Regions from separate parts of the Homo sapiens genome. Here all the other regions are linked to region 1. The links come from fine-mapping of genetic effects on gene expression. A gene starts in region 1. Each other region holds a variant in brackets. All regions are shown on one strand. Distances are between the middles of the regions.

The links.
Region 2: its variant is fine-mapped to the expression of FGFRL1 in tibial nerve (GTEx, PIP 0.97).
Region 3: its variant is fine-mapped to the expression of FGFRL1 in fibroblasts (GTEx, PIP 0.95).

What each region holds. Positions count from the first base shown.
Region 1 is chr4:1,009,956-1,014,146 of GRCh38, forward strand. It overlaps FGFRL1 (fibroblast growth factor receptor like 1), which reads left to right and starts at 1,671. Exons shown (of 7, transcript NM_001004356.3): 1 at 1,671-1,999; 2 at 2,515-2,609. The coding sequence starts at 2,531. RefSeq lists an enhancer at 1-626 and silencers at 244-313, 1,144-1,663, 2,343-2,412.
Region 2 is chr4:1,049,086-1,053,276 of GRCh38, forward strand. LOC105374343 (a long non-coding RNA gene) reads left to right here. Exons shown (of 2, transcript XR_001741546.1): 2 at 2,130-2,421. Among named protein-coding and RNA genes, the nearest start is that of FGFRL1, 40 kb to the left of the region's middle. RefSeq lists an enhancer at 3,680-4,191. The variant C/G (reference allele first, on the strand shown) is at 1,952.
Region 3 is chr4:1,107,266-1,111,456 of GRCh38, forward strand. RNF212 (ring finger protein 212) reads right to left here. Exons shown (of 10, transcript NM_001131034.4): 2 at 1,078-1,139. Among named protein-coding and RNA genes, the nearest start is that of RNF212, 4.2 kb to the right of the region's middle. The variant AC/A (reference allele first, on the strand shown) is at 2,484.

The DNA of each region.
Region 1 (4,191 bases):
CGGCCTGTCCGCTCCCTGCTTATACTTTGCACGCTCGCAGCCACGTTTCCGCACACCTGTCCCCTTTCCACGCACCTGTGTCCGGCAGCCCGCACATCTGTGGGAGCGCTGCCTCCTCGCCAGCTGTCCGGGAAGTTCAGCGCCGCTCTCCCACGGGCGTGAGACCGCCCCACCCACCTGTCCGTGACTGCAGCTCCGGCCGGGAGGGCGGCAGGTGGGCCCCGGCGCTGCTGGCTCCTTGTGGGACAGGGCCGCGGCGGCGGCGCAGGACGTTCTCCCGCCGGGAGGACCACGCGGCGGTCCCTGGACCCTTCCCCGGGTGCACAGCGGCGGCTGCGCCAGCGGGGGCAGGATGGGCCGTCCGAGCGCACCTCCATCCGCCCTCGCGACGCCCACGCTGGCCCAGACGCGGGATTTGGGGTGGAGGACGCTGGGCTGGGAACCAGCACCTTGGGACGGCCGGGTAGTTCGGGCCTTGAGGAGTCCCACACCCTGACAGCTGGCGCCCCCCACGCCCCGCCTAGCTCTCCTCGGCCTGGGGACACCGGCTGCCAGGCCTCTCCAGTTTCAGCCTTTCCTGGGAGGACTTCCTGGAAGAGGGGGCTTCAGGCCCCAGAAAGAGAGGCTGCTCTGGGGGATGGAGGAGGTGCTGGGATGGTGACTCCGCGGAGTCGAGGGTGTGAGGCGGGATGTGGGCAGGCCGTGAGGTTTGTGTTGCAAGACTGGGAGGCAGGATGAGGGGAGGCCATGGGGCGGCTGGAGGTGCGGCCTGGGAGCCCTGCGTGCTGGGCCCTGGGCAGGGACGGCAGGCGAGGCGTGTGGAGGAAGAGCCGCGAAGAGCTGGGCGCTGTCTTCTCCACGCCTCCGTTTCTTCATCTGCTCCTGGGGCCGCCTGCCCGGTAGCGGAGATTGAATCGCATGTTGACGTCTATTACGATGATTAATGTTCTTGTCATTCCCGTCACTAGCAGGTGAGAGGCTGGGAGGCCTCAGGTGGGAACATACCTTTGGCCAAAGGCACCAGGTAACCCGAACGCCCCGGGGAGGACCCCTGCCTGCATCGCCGCGGCCGTCCCCCCCTACCCCGTCCCCAGCAGCTCCGGCTGGGCGAGGCCCTGCTTCTCCCTTCTGCTCCCGAAGACCCCCCGGGGCGCAGACCTGGAAGCCTCGAAGCTCCCGCGGCCGTCCAGTCCGCCCCCTTCTGAGCAACCAGAGAGCGGTCTGGGCCCGGCCCGGGGCTGCGCAGAGGTCAGACTGCCGCGGGCAGGGCCGGAGCCTGCTCTGGGGGTCGCGGAGGTGTCTCGAGAGTTGAGGACCCGACCCGGGCGCGCGCGGGCGCAGGTATGGGGAGGGCGCGGCGGCTCCTGGCCGGTCCTAGGAGCCTGCGGGGACCAAGGGCGCGCGGGCGGGGCCGGGGGCGCGGCGAGGCTCGGGTTGGGGCGGGGCGGGGGCGGGGGCGGGGCCGGACCCGGGGAAGCCGCCCGCCCGCGGGGACGTCCGCACCGCGAGGGTTAAGGCCGGGAGCCCGGCGGGGCGGGGGCGGTGTGCGCGCGCGGATTGGGGAAAAGTTTGGCGGCGGGGCGGGGCACGGGGGAGGGCTGACGCGCGCGGATTGGCCGGAAGTTGTGCCGGGGGCGGGTCGGGGGTCCGGGCTCGGCGCTCGCTCCGGGAGAGTTGACAAAGCCCCGCAGGGAAGGACGCCTCGCGGCGCGGCGCCCCGGGCCCCTCGCCCCGCCGCCCCGGGATCCCGGCCCCGGCCCCCGGCCCCGCGGACTCGCCCCCGCCGCCTGCCCGGTCCGGGACCCCGCGCCCCGAGCGCCCGAGCCCGGACCCCGACCCGGCCCGAGCCGCCCGCGCCCAGGTAGCGCCGCCCCGCCCCGAGACCGGGCCCGGGGGCGCGGGGCGGCGGGATGCGGCGCCCGGGGCGGCGATGACCGCGGAGCGCACGCCGCGGGCCCGGCCCTGACCCCGCCGCCCGCCCGCTGAGCCCCCCGCCGAGGTGAGCCCCCCGCGCGCGCGGCCGCGACCCCAGGTGGGCACACGGGGGAGGGCGGGGGTCCGGGGCGGGGGCGGGGAGGGGCGGGTTCGGGGCCCCAGCTGGGCACGGGTCATGCGCGCCGCCGCCGCTCCTGCGGGCCCCCGGCCTGCCCCGCCCCCGCCCCCGCGCCCCACGTGGGCCCCCCCCAGCGCAAATTTGTCCGCTAATGGCGCAGGCGATTATCTGCGGGGCGCTGAGTGTTGTGTGTCCTGCGGGCAGGGCCGGAGTTACAAGCGCCAGGAATCCAGACGGTGTTTGGAGAGGGGGGGCGGCGGGGGAGCCCGGTAATTAGTGTAAACCCTTTGTCTGCCTTTGATACCCACAGCTTCTCCCCGCTGCGGCTTCCTCCGCCTGGAGCGCGGGCGGGGAGGGCCTGTGGGGAGGGCGGCCAGACCCCTGATCCCCGCGGCCCGGGACCGGGGAGGGCGGTATCTCCCAGTTCCACGTGTTAGTGACGGCGCCCCCAATGTCCCCAGGTCCGGACAGGCCGAGATGACGCCGAGCCCCCTGTTGCTGCTCCTGCTGCCGCCGCTGCTGCTGGGGGCCTTCCCGCCGGCCGCCGCCGCCCGAGGTGAGTTCTGGCGCCCAGCCCGGCCAGCCTGGCCTCCGCCAGCGCCGCCCCCTTCCCGCCCGGCCCTGAACCCTGCCACAGTGCCCGCCTGGCACGCGCCATGCCCCGCCCCTGCCGCCCCGCTCGCCAGGCCCCCTTCCTTCCAGGGCCCCCTCACCCATGGGCTGTCCACAGCACCCACCGGGGCTCCCCTAGCTGGCTGGAGGGGTTCCCCTCATGCGTGCTTGCTGGCCAGGTGGGCTTTAGTCCTGGCTCCCCAGGACATGCTCCTGGTCTTGCAAACACTTTCATACTCGTACCTGCAGTCCAGGGCAGCTAATCACCTGTGGATTCTTGGGGAGTGGGCGGTTTGTGGCCACAGTGGACCCGATAAGGACTCTGGGAACCTGCAGAGACCCCCACGGAAGGCAGGATGGGCTATGGGAGATATTGGTAATATACTTGGTGTCTGGGACTGAAACTGACCCCCAGACCCCCAGTCCCCCAGCCGACCTAGCCGTGTGCCCTGGGCCTGCCCAGCTCTAGGCAGGCAGTGCCGGGCGGTTGTGTGGACAAGTCCCCAGAGCCGTGACGCACCCCAGGACTGCGTGCCTCTGGGCACACGCTGTGCTGGCCTGGTACGTGCTCATGGCACCGACATCTAAGTGGCAGCCATGCCCTGGGACCCAGCCCCAGCAAGGACATCCGGAGCCGATGGGTGACGTGTGCCCGCAGACTCATGCCCGCCATGTTCCAGGATCCGGGCACAGCGCTGGCTGCCCCCATGGCTAGGCGGGACCTGTGGCCAGGCCGGCCCTTTGGGCGTGTTGACCACTCAGGATTGTCCGCGCTGTGTCCACCAGTCCTGAGGCTTCGCACCCCTCCCCTGCCGCCCAGCAAGCGCGCCGCATCCAACCTGGCCTTATATGGGCACGTTCGGGTGCTGGGTGGCGGGCGGTGACCAGGTGGGCCTTATGCCACAGCACCCCCCCCTACCCCCCGCCTGCCCACATGGGCCTGGCTGAGCGGCTGCTCTGAGGGCCCGGCAGCGTCCTGGGCTGTGTGGGCACTCAGGCCATACTGGGCGAGCCCCTACCATGGCCAGCGGCCTGGACTTGCATTCTCTTTGATCTGTTTGGCCTCCCCAATCCCTACACCTGCCTGTCCTCTGGCCACTCGGCCAGGGAGGCTCTGGAGGCCTCTGTCCTGCCATGTTTCCTGGCTGGGGCTGAAGCTGACTGGTGGATGGCCACGGTCAGCCATGGCAGTGGGCGGCAGAGCCCGCCTCTTCGTGGAGACGCCCCAGCGGCCACCCCCTTCGCCTTCGTCCTCCTCAGCTGCGGCCTTGGGGCTGAGGATATCCAGCCCTGGCTTTGCGTGGCAAAGGCCCTGGCGGCACTGGGGAGCTGGGATCAAGCTGCTTTCCAAGGGCAGGGGCCTCTGTGGTTTGGGTGGAGGTGGGGAGGAGGTTCTTCCGGACTGTGCTGATTTTCCTAGCGTGGACTAGGGCGCGAGGTCCATCCAAGTGTGTTTCTCCTGCTCTGAACAGCCCACTGTGCACCTTCGTTAGGCCAAGGACCAGCATGCAGAGGGCTTGGGTTAT
Region 2 (4,191 bases), 39 kb after region 1:
ATTTGTGTGGGGACACAGCCAAACCCTGTCACTCAGCTTCCCTCGGGTTTCCTGCCCTCTTCTCCATCACTGCCCCCCAGCACAGCCAGCAGCTCCTGCCCAGGGTCCCGGGGCCCGGCCTCCCCTGTGGCCACAGATCCTGGCTCTCTGTCCCACCACTCAGGCAGGCGATGCTCAAATCCATCTCCTCACTGACGCCCTCCTCTGTGGCAGCTCTGAGCCTTGAACCTCCAACACCGTCCTGTCGGGACTGGCAGAACTCATCAGGGGAATCATTGGAACGCTAGTCACCCTTGCCCCTCCAGACCTCCCAACCTCTCCTCTCCCCTCCCTAGCACCCCCTCACCCCAGGCTGCCTGGGTCCTACACAGTCCCCAGCACTGAGACTGGCCTTCTGCTCCCCTCCCTCAGCCTTGCTCACCTCCTGGCTGTCCTGGGACAGCGTCTTAGGGTGCTGCCTGCTCATGACTTGCTCAGGGTCTTAGTCCCCTGCCTCCCCCTGCACCTGTGTCCTCGGTCACGTGTTCCGTCAGGGTGCTGGGCATGGCGCCGACATGGAAGCGCTGCCTGTCTGCTCCTCAGTGTGCCCCTTGCAGCTTGGCTGGCGAGTGCCGAAGGGGCGGAGGAAGCTGGTGCCCGGCAGGAGATGCAGCCCAGGAGGACCCCCGGGCCTGGCTCGTCGCCAAGGACGATGCAGTGGTGCTCATGGCTGCACTGTCTGTGACGGGAAGAGAGGAAGCCGCGGTGCCTCTCAGAGCGGAACACGCAGTCGTGGTTCACTTCTGTGAGTGAGCTACAAGAGCTCACGCCAAACAAAGGGGCCAGTCCATGGAACAACCTCAAGTGTGACCCCCCCTTTTTTTTTGAGACAGAGTCTTACTCTGTTGCCCAGGCTGGAGTGCAGTGGCGTGATCTTGGCTCACTGCAACCTCTGCCTCCCAGGTTCAAGTGATTCTCCCATCTTAGCCTCTCAAGTAGCTGGGATTCCAGGTGTGTGCCACCCACGCCTGGCTAATTTTTGTATTTTTAGTAGAGACGGGGTTTTGCCATGTTGGTCAGGCTAAGTGTGACCCCATTTTTATTAAAATCAAAACAAAGGACCTCAGTCCAACAAAATAGGAATTCTGAAAGACCAGAAACAGGTCTAGAAGGTGCTGTGCTATGAGTGGGGGAGCGCCTGAAGGTGGAGGCTGGGCCCAGCAGCTGGGGAGAGGCCTGGGGACGCCCCTCAGCCACTCCATCTCCAGGTGTCTGCCACAGTTGGGGCCACGAGGAATCGGGAGCCATGATGGTGGAGAGAAATAGTCAAATATTGATTTAGTACCTACTGGAGTAAAATGCTGATTACCCGTCAATGGATTAGGTGCAAATCACATCATTGGGCACCTTTGAATACAATGCATCGTAAGGCACAGCCCAGGCTGTGAAGCCACCCTGAGAAGTTCACAGTTGGTCTCATCGTTTTATGTCCACGCTGTGCATTTGCTTCTGAAGGACCATGGTGGGGGTCTGCACTACTTGTAGAAACAAGAATCCAGTCTAAAGACTTACCCTATGGCTCCGCGTGATCTCTAAATACGGCAGTTTCTGAGCGCCGCGGCCTCCGCCTCTGCGTGCTTTCCTCGCATGCTGAGTGTCTAACCTCGGCTTCTGGGTTTGCTGCTGCTGTTTCACAGACAGCACCCCACACAGGGCAGCTTGAGGATGCCCCGCTGCTTCCCTGGTTGTGGATAAGCCAGGCAGCTGGCGGATGGCGCGGCACGAGCGCTGGCTGTGCCTGCTGGGCACTGCCTTCACGCGCTCCCAATCCTGCCTCATCAGCCCAGGTCGTCGCTTTGCTGAGTTGCTCAACGCTTTCACACTCGGCGGGCGGCACTAAACAGACGCTTTCCTGGGGCAACAAACCCAGCCGGGCGCGGGCACCGCTCAGGCTCCCTTGGTCTAGCGCCCT[C/G]CAGTGTTGCCGGCCAGCACTGCTGCAGAGGCCGCGGGTCGCTCGGACGGGAATGGATGGAAATGTGGCTGAGGCCACTGTTGACCCGGAAGTGTTTTGCCTTTGTTTGTTAACCAGCTATGAAACTAAACATTCTCACACTGCCAGCAAAATGACCATTTTTTCATTTAATTTGCAGAGAACAGCATTATTAGTGGCAAACATCTTGAAGCAAACAAAATGTGGTCAAGTTGAGCTAACATCACATTATTTTCCTGAAGAATGCTGTGTGAACTCACGGAGTCCGTCTGCACTAATCAGTCCAGTGAACGGCTTCCTTCCTTCTGGCAGAGTTCCTTCTCCAGCATTTCCTCCAAATCCCACCCAGCATTAATGACATCTGTCTATAAACATTAGTTTTAGTCTCAAATATTTTTTCCCTCAAAACTCAGAAGCTTAGTGAGAAAATAAAAATCACAATGAGCAACGTGTCCACTCCCCTGGCACTTCTGGACTTCCCGTAACACACACAGAGAGCTCGAACCACATGTCTTGTTGGCATCTGCCTCCCTATGCTGTCACCACGAGGGCCTTGCTGTGCTGGTTGATGAGATGGACGTGGTGCTTAGACAGGCAGGTGATGTGGTTTGGCTGTGTCCCCACTCAAATCTCATCTTGAACTGTGGACGTGGTGCTTGGATGGGCAGGTGATGTGGTTTGGCTGTGTCCTCACCCAATCTCATCTTGAACTGTGGCTCCCACAATTCCCACATTGTGGAAGGGACCCGATGGGAGGTAACTGAATCATGTGGGCGGGTCTTTCCCATGCTGGTCTCACGAGAGTGAATAAGTCTCATGAGATCTGATGGTTTTATAGGAGCAGTTCCCTGCACACACTCTCTGCCTGCCACCATGTAAGATGTGCCTTTGCTCCTTCTTTGCCTTCCACCATGACTATGAGGCCTCCCCAGCCATGTGGGGCTGTGAGTCCATTTGACCTTTTTCCTTTATAAACTATCCCGTCTCAGTCGGGTATGTCAGCGTTAGAACAGACTAATACAGCAGGGAACCATTTTTTTCACCAAAAAAGGCAAAATTTAGTAAAACATCCAGACAGTGGCACAAAGCTATTCTGTGGATAGAGCCGATGGATAGCACTGCCGAGGCGGAACTCCCACCTGTCCTCACAGCAGCGCAGGGCCTGAGGGATGATGCCTGAGGCTGCACAGCGGTGGGGGACTCAGCCCAAGGTTATGTCTTGGCCCTGAATCACAGCTGCACCGTGAGTGGTGGAGGCAGCCCCCCACTGCCTGCAGCACAGCCCACGAGACACCACCGGGCAGGACAACTCACAGCAGGCGGTGGGGGGTGGGGGAAAGGCTTGGCTGCTGTACACCCACACGTGGGAGTGGCAGAGCCTGCAGAAAAGGTGCCGCCCACTTCTAGCCCAGGACGCGCATGAAGAGCTGAGGGCACTGCCCCTCCGTGGTCCTGCCCCCCTGCCAGTCTCTGCTGCTCCATTATGACCCCACGGCTGGCCCTGGGCTTTCACAGTCTTGTTTCACACAGCTCGTGCCTTCACACATCATCCCTCAGGCCCTGCGCTGCTGTTCCTGGGCTGAACGTGGGCTTTCATGCACTGCATGAGGACAGGCGGGAGTTCCGCCTCGGCAGTGCTGTCACCTCCATCCACGGAGTAAGCTTGTGCCACTGTCTGGATGTTTTACTAAATTGTGACTTTTCTGGTGACAATCACTGGAAAACAAAGAAAGGTGTGCTGAGGTGGGCCAGTGGCAAATCGAGGCGCAAGGGCTGCCCCTAGCGAATGTCTGGACAGAACCAGGTGCTGCAGGGTGGACCCTGGCCAAATGCAGGCTCAACTGTGAAAAACAACAACAATAAAGAACAGGAAATGCTACAAGTATGGCTTCAAGTTTATGTCTAGAAAGGTGAAGTGATGGAAGAAATTGCAATTTTAAAATCAGGGACCACTCATCAGCCCCCAGACAGAAGGGCCCGGGGCTGCCTGGAGAGAGGGTGAGGCAGTGGCGGGCAGCCCCGGGGCAATATTTCTTGGCAAAGTTTTCAAAGAAGTCCCCTAAGGAACACCACAGGCATGAGGACAGCCCCGGCCACGTTCCTTTGCAGGATCAGCTCCAGCAAGTCCACCTGCGAGAACCAAGGCGGCCGCTGCAGACTGAGCTGAGCCCTGCGAGGTAAACCGTGAGAACGGCAGCTGCGGTAAGAGAAGCGATTCCTAC
Region 3 (4,191 bases), 97 kb after region 1:
TGGTCTCGATCTCCTGACCTCATGATCCGCCTGCCTCAGCCTCCCAAAGTGCTGGGATTACAGGTGTGAGCCACTGCGCCTGGCCGAGAAGACACCATTTTTATGAAAAGGTAAATCACAATAACACACATAGAATAGGTACCAAACTCCTGGTCACTGTCATCTCTGGGAAACAGGATCTGGGGACTTACACTTTTTTTTTTTTTTTGAGACAGAGTCTCGCTCAGTCACCCAGGCTGGAGTGCAGTGGCGCCATCTCACTGCAGGCTCCGCCTCCCGGGTTCACGCATTCTCCTGCCTCAGCCTCCCAAGTAGCTGGGACTACAGGCGCCCACCACCACGCCCAACTAATTTTTTTGTATTTTTAGTAGAGATGGGGTTTCACTGAGTTGGCCAGGATGGTCTTGATCTCCTGATCTCGTGATCCGCCCATCTTGGCCTCCCAAAGTGCTGGGATTACAGGCATGAGCCATCACGCCCGGCAGGACTTACACATTTGCCATTATAATTTTCTGTACTATACGAATGTTGTGTAACTTTGTATTATGTTTGTAATCACAAAAAAACAACTATTATATTTAAATCATCAGACCAAATGCACATTTTGGAGATCAGGCAGAGAAAAGACCAATCATTTGTTTATACCAATAACAAGTTAAACTGAATATTTTATAGAGAGAACAAAAGGCATTGTTTTAAGCCTGCAGCAGTAATTGATTTTAAACTTACTTTATGAACAACACTCTTAATTATATATGACCCCTATACAAATCCAAACTCTATCACCCTCTTAAGGTGCCTGTATTGTGCTGCAGAAATCTATTTAACCCACTTTCATTTCCAGGAACACAGCACGATTCAACAACCTAGGAATAAGGTCAATCTATAGCTAAGAAAGTTTTAAAAATTAAGTTTTAAAAACTAAATCCTAACTGCATTTTGATTACTCAGATATCTTTGTTAACGGAGCAAAGTGACTGAAAATTTTAGACACCACAAATGACTAAAAATTAAATATCAAATTTAAAAGGAAATATGACTGTGATTAAGATGCAGATACGACACATTTCAACTTACATGCTTTGAAAGCAAAACTGTACGACAAGGAGCTTTACAAATCAAGCATTCATTCTTTTTACCTATAAAATAAAAATAGGCTTTATTATATTAGACTGACTACTACTTTTAAATATGTATACATGCAGACTTTACAATGTTTCTCCAAGAAATAGGCAGGATTGTATCACTTACAGGTTTTCATGTTCTGACAGGATGAGGCTGTGGGTACTGGTACAGTTGGAAGGATTTATAGAACTAACATTCTTTTCCCCTCTTTTGCAAATATGTACAAAAACAGTGACCATAAAGATCAACAACACTTAAGGCTAAGTCTATCCCAGGTATTTATTACAATTAGGCTTTTTTAAAATTAAAATTAAAAATTTTTTTTGAGACAAGGTCTTGTTCTGTTGCCCAGGCTGATCTGCAAGTGGCATGATCACAGCTCACTGCAGCCTTGACACCCCCGGGCTCAACAGTCTTCCCCTCTCAGCCTCCCTGAGTAGCTAGGACCACAGACGTGTGCCGCCACAGCCAGATAATTTTTAAATTTTTTTGTAGAGACAGGGTCTCACTATGTTGCCCACACTGGGCTCGAACTCCTGGGCTCAAACAATCCTCCCACCTCAGCCTCCCAAAGTGCTGGGATTGTAGGCGTGAGCCACTGTGCCTGGCCATAATTAGCCTTTTTTTTTTTTTTTGAGACAGAGTTTCACTCTGTCACCCAGGCGGGAGTGTAATGACGCGATCTTGGCTCACTGCAACCTCCACCTCCTGGGTTCAAGTGATTCTCATGCCTCAGGCTCCCAAGTGACTGGGCGTACAGGTGCCTGCCACCACACCAGGCTAATTTTTGTATTTTTAGTAGAGACAGGGTTTTGCCATGTTGGCCAGGCTGGTCTTGAACTCCTGACCTCAGGTGATCAGCCCACATCGGTCTCTCAAAGTGCTGGGATTATAGGCATGAGCCACCATGCCCAGCCTATGATTAGGCTTTATAGTGATATCTTAATCTAAAATTTTTAACTATTCAAAATGAACCTCAAGCTTGATTTTCTCACTAGTCAACTTGGAGCCCAGGGCTGACCAGGCACTATGAGCCTTCACACTCCTGTCATTCCAGGGAGGACATCAGGTCCAAACCTGAACAAGCCCGGTGGCTTTGTCCCCTCCTCTGGGCCAGTGCAGCTAAGAACTAGGAAAAAAACATCCCTTAAGTGAGAGGTGGATTCACAGACTTGAGGATTCCAACGCTGCTGAGTCAGCAACACTGCTGGGCAATCCTGCTTTTCCTGGGTATTTTCTGCCCCATTCCCCATGGGGCTGCTCAAACCAGGGCCCTCATATCATCTACTCAGAAGCAGCCCTGGCTCATGACCTACCTCAATTTCTCTGCCCTCTCCTCTAGACTGACCCACCACAGA[AC/A]AACCCACTTCACGCTACCTCCTTCCTTTCTGCCTTGGAGGCAGCATCTCTTCCAGCCCAAGCCCAGGCTTTCACTTGTGTATCCATACTCGCCTCAGTGTCCGCAGCTCCCAGCACACAGAATGGTGTCCTACTGTGGGGTGAGGGGGTCCCCTTCTAACAGCCTCCAGAATTGTCTCCTTTCCTCTCTTCTTCAAGTTGCCCTCATGCTAAAAACATCTACCCTTGACAGTAGGTCCCCTCCCTTCTAGCTCTTTAAGTGCAAATTCTGCAGCAAGAAAATTCCTCTTATGCACCATCACAGCTAGGAGTCATGCAGTAAAAGATTAACAGAGCCGACTCATAAAAATCGAAAAGTTCTTACAAGGGAGGAGGATTAACAGACATGACAGAGAGGAAATCACGTGCGGCCAAAAGACAAAGGGATTGATGCCTGATCTATAAATAGTGCTCACTAGTCAATTAGAAAGAAACACCTCAATAAAAGGCTATGAGGAGACCTGAATAGGCATAGGAAAAAATGCAAACAGCCAATAAACACACAAAATGAAGGTCAAGGTCACTAGTAAGAGACACCAAAGAGGAGAAAACAACAGGTGCTCACGTGTCACTACAGGGAATAGAAACAGGCACTTCCTTTGTGCCTGTTTGGGTCGCATTTGGGTCAGTTTTCATGTGCACATCCGCAGCCTAGCCACTCCACCCCGAAGAATATATTCCAAGGAAAAAAATCAAGTAAGAGAACAAGTGGTGTCTCATAGCAAAACGGCAGAAACTATGTTATGGTATGATAGCCAAAAGATGTATCATGCAACCTTAAGAATGATGATACAGACTTATTTTAACACGGAAGGAGGTCTATGTTTGAGTAAGTAATAAAAGCAGATTACTGAATGGTAGACACACTATTGCTTTTGTTTTAAAAATCTGCATCTATAGGAAATGCTTGGAAGGATATACACCAGAGCTAAACAAGGGCTTCCCTCTGAGTGACACACCACTGGACAGCTACAGAGCTACAGTCAAGGCTCTGCCCAGAGCCTCCACCCCTTTTCACCACTTTTTTGTGTGTCTTTGGATTTGGTGTGGTCCCGACATGCAGCATCTGTGGCTTTTTGGAGGAATGCACTCAGACTACTGGAATCTGTGTTGACCTCAGGCTTTAAGAGCTAGGCAAACCTGTGAATCTATACCTGCCCCAGGCCCTTAACCAGTCACCTGCCAACGCAGAGTATGCTGACCTCAAAAGCTATGACGCTCTGAGCCCTGTCTTCACACTTCCCAGCACCACGAAGGCACACGCGTCTCCATCATTCCTAACAATGTTATCTTCGGGGAACATTATCTTGGGTCACCAGTGCCCTCCTCACTGGTCCAATGGACACTTTCAAACACCAATTCCTTGACTTCACTGGGATGTCCAGTTCATCAACATCTCTTTTTTACCTGACATCTTCTTTACCTCCTTCAACAAATGCTCTTTCCAACAAGATAGTCTCTTCTAGTTTCCTTCACCTTTGGGGCTCTCCACACTCCAATATCTAGGATTATAGGATTATTATCCCGTATTAATCGCTCCCCAAATGTGTTCCTGGCTGTCTTGAGTTCCAGACCCACATGTGCAACTGCCTCTTGTCTTCCCCTGGATGGCTCTCACAGGATACAGGCCGTGTCCAGACATGAGCTCAGGGGCCCTGCACCCCACCC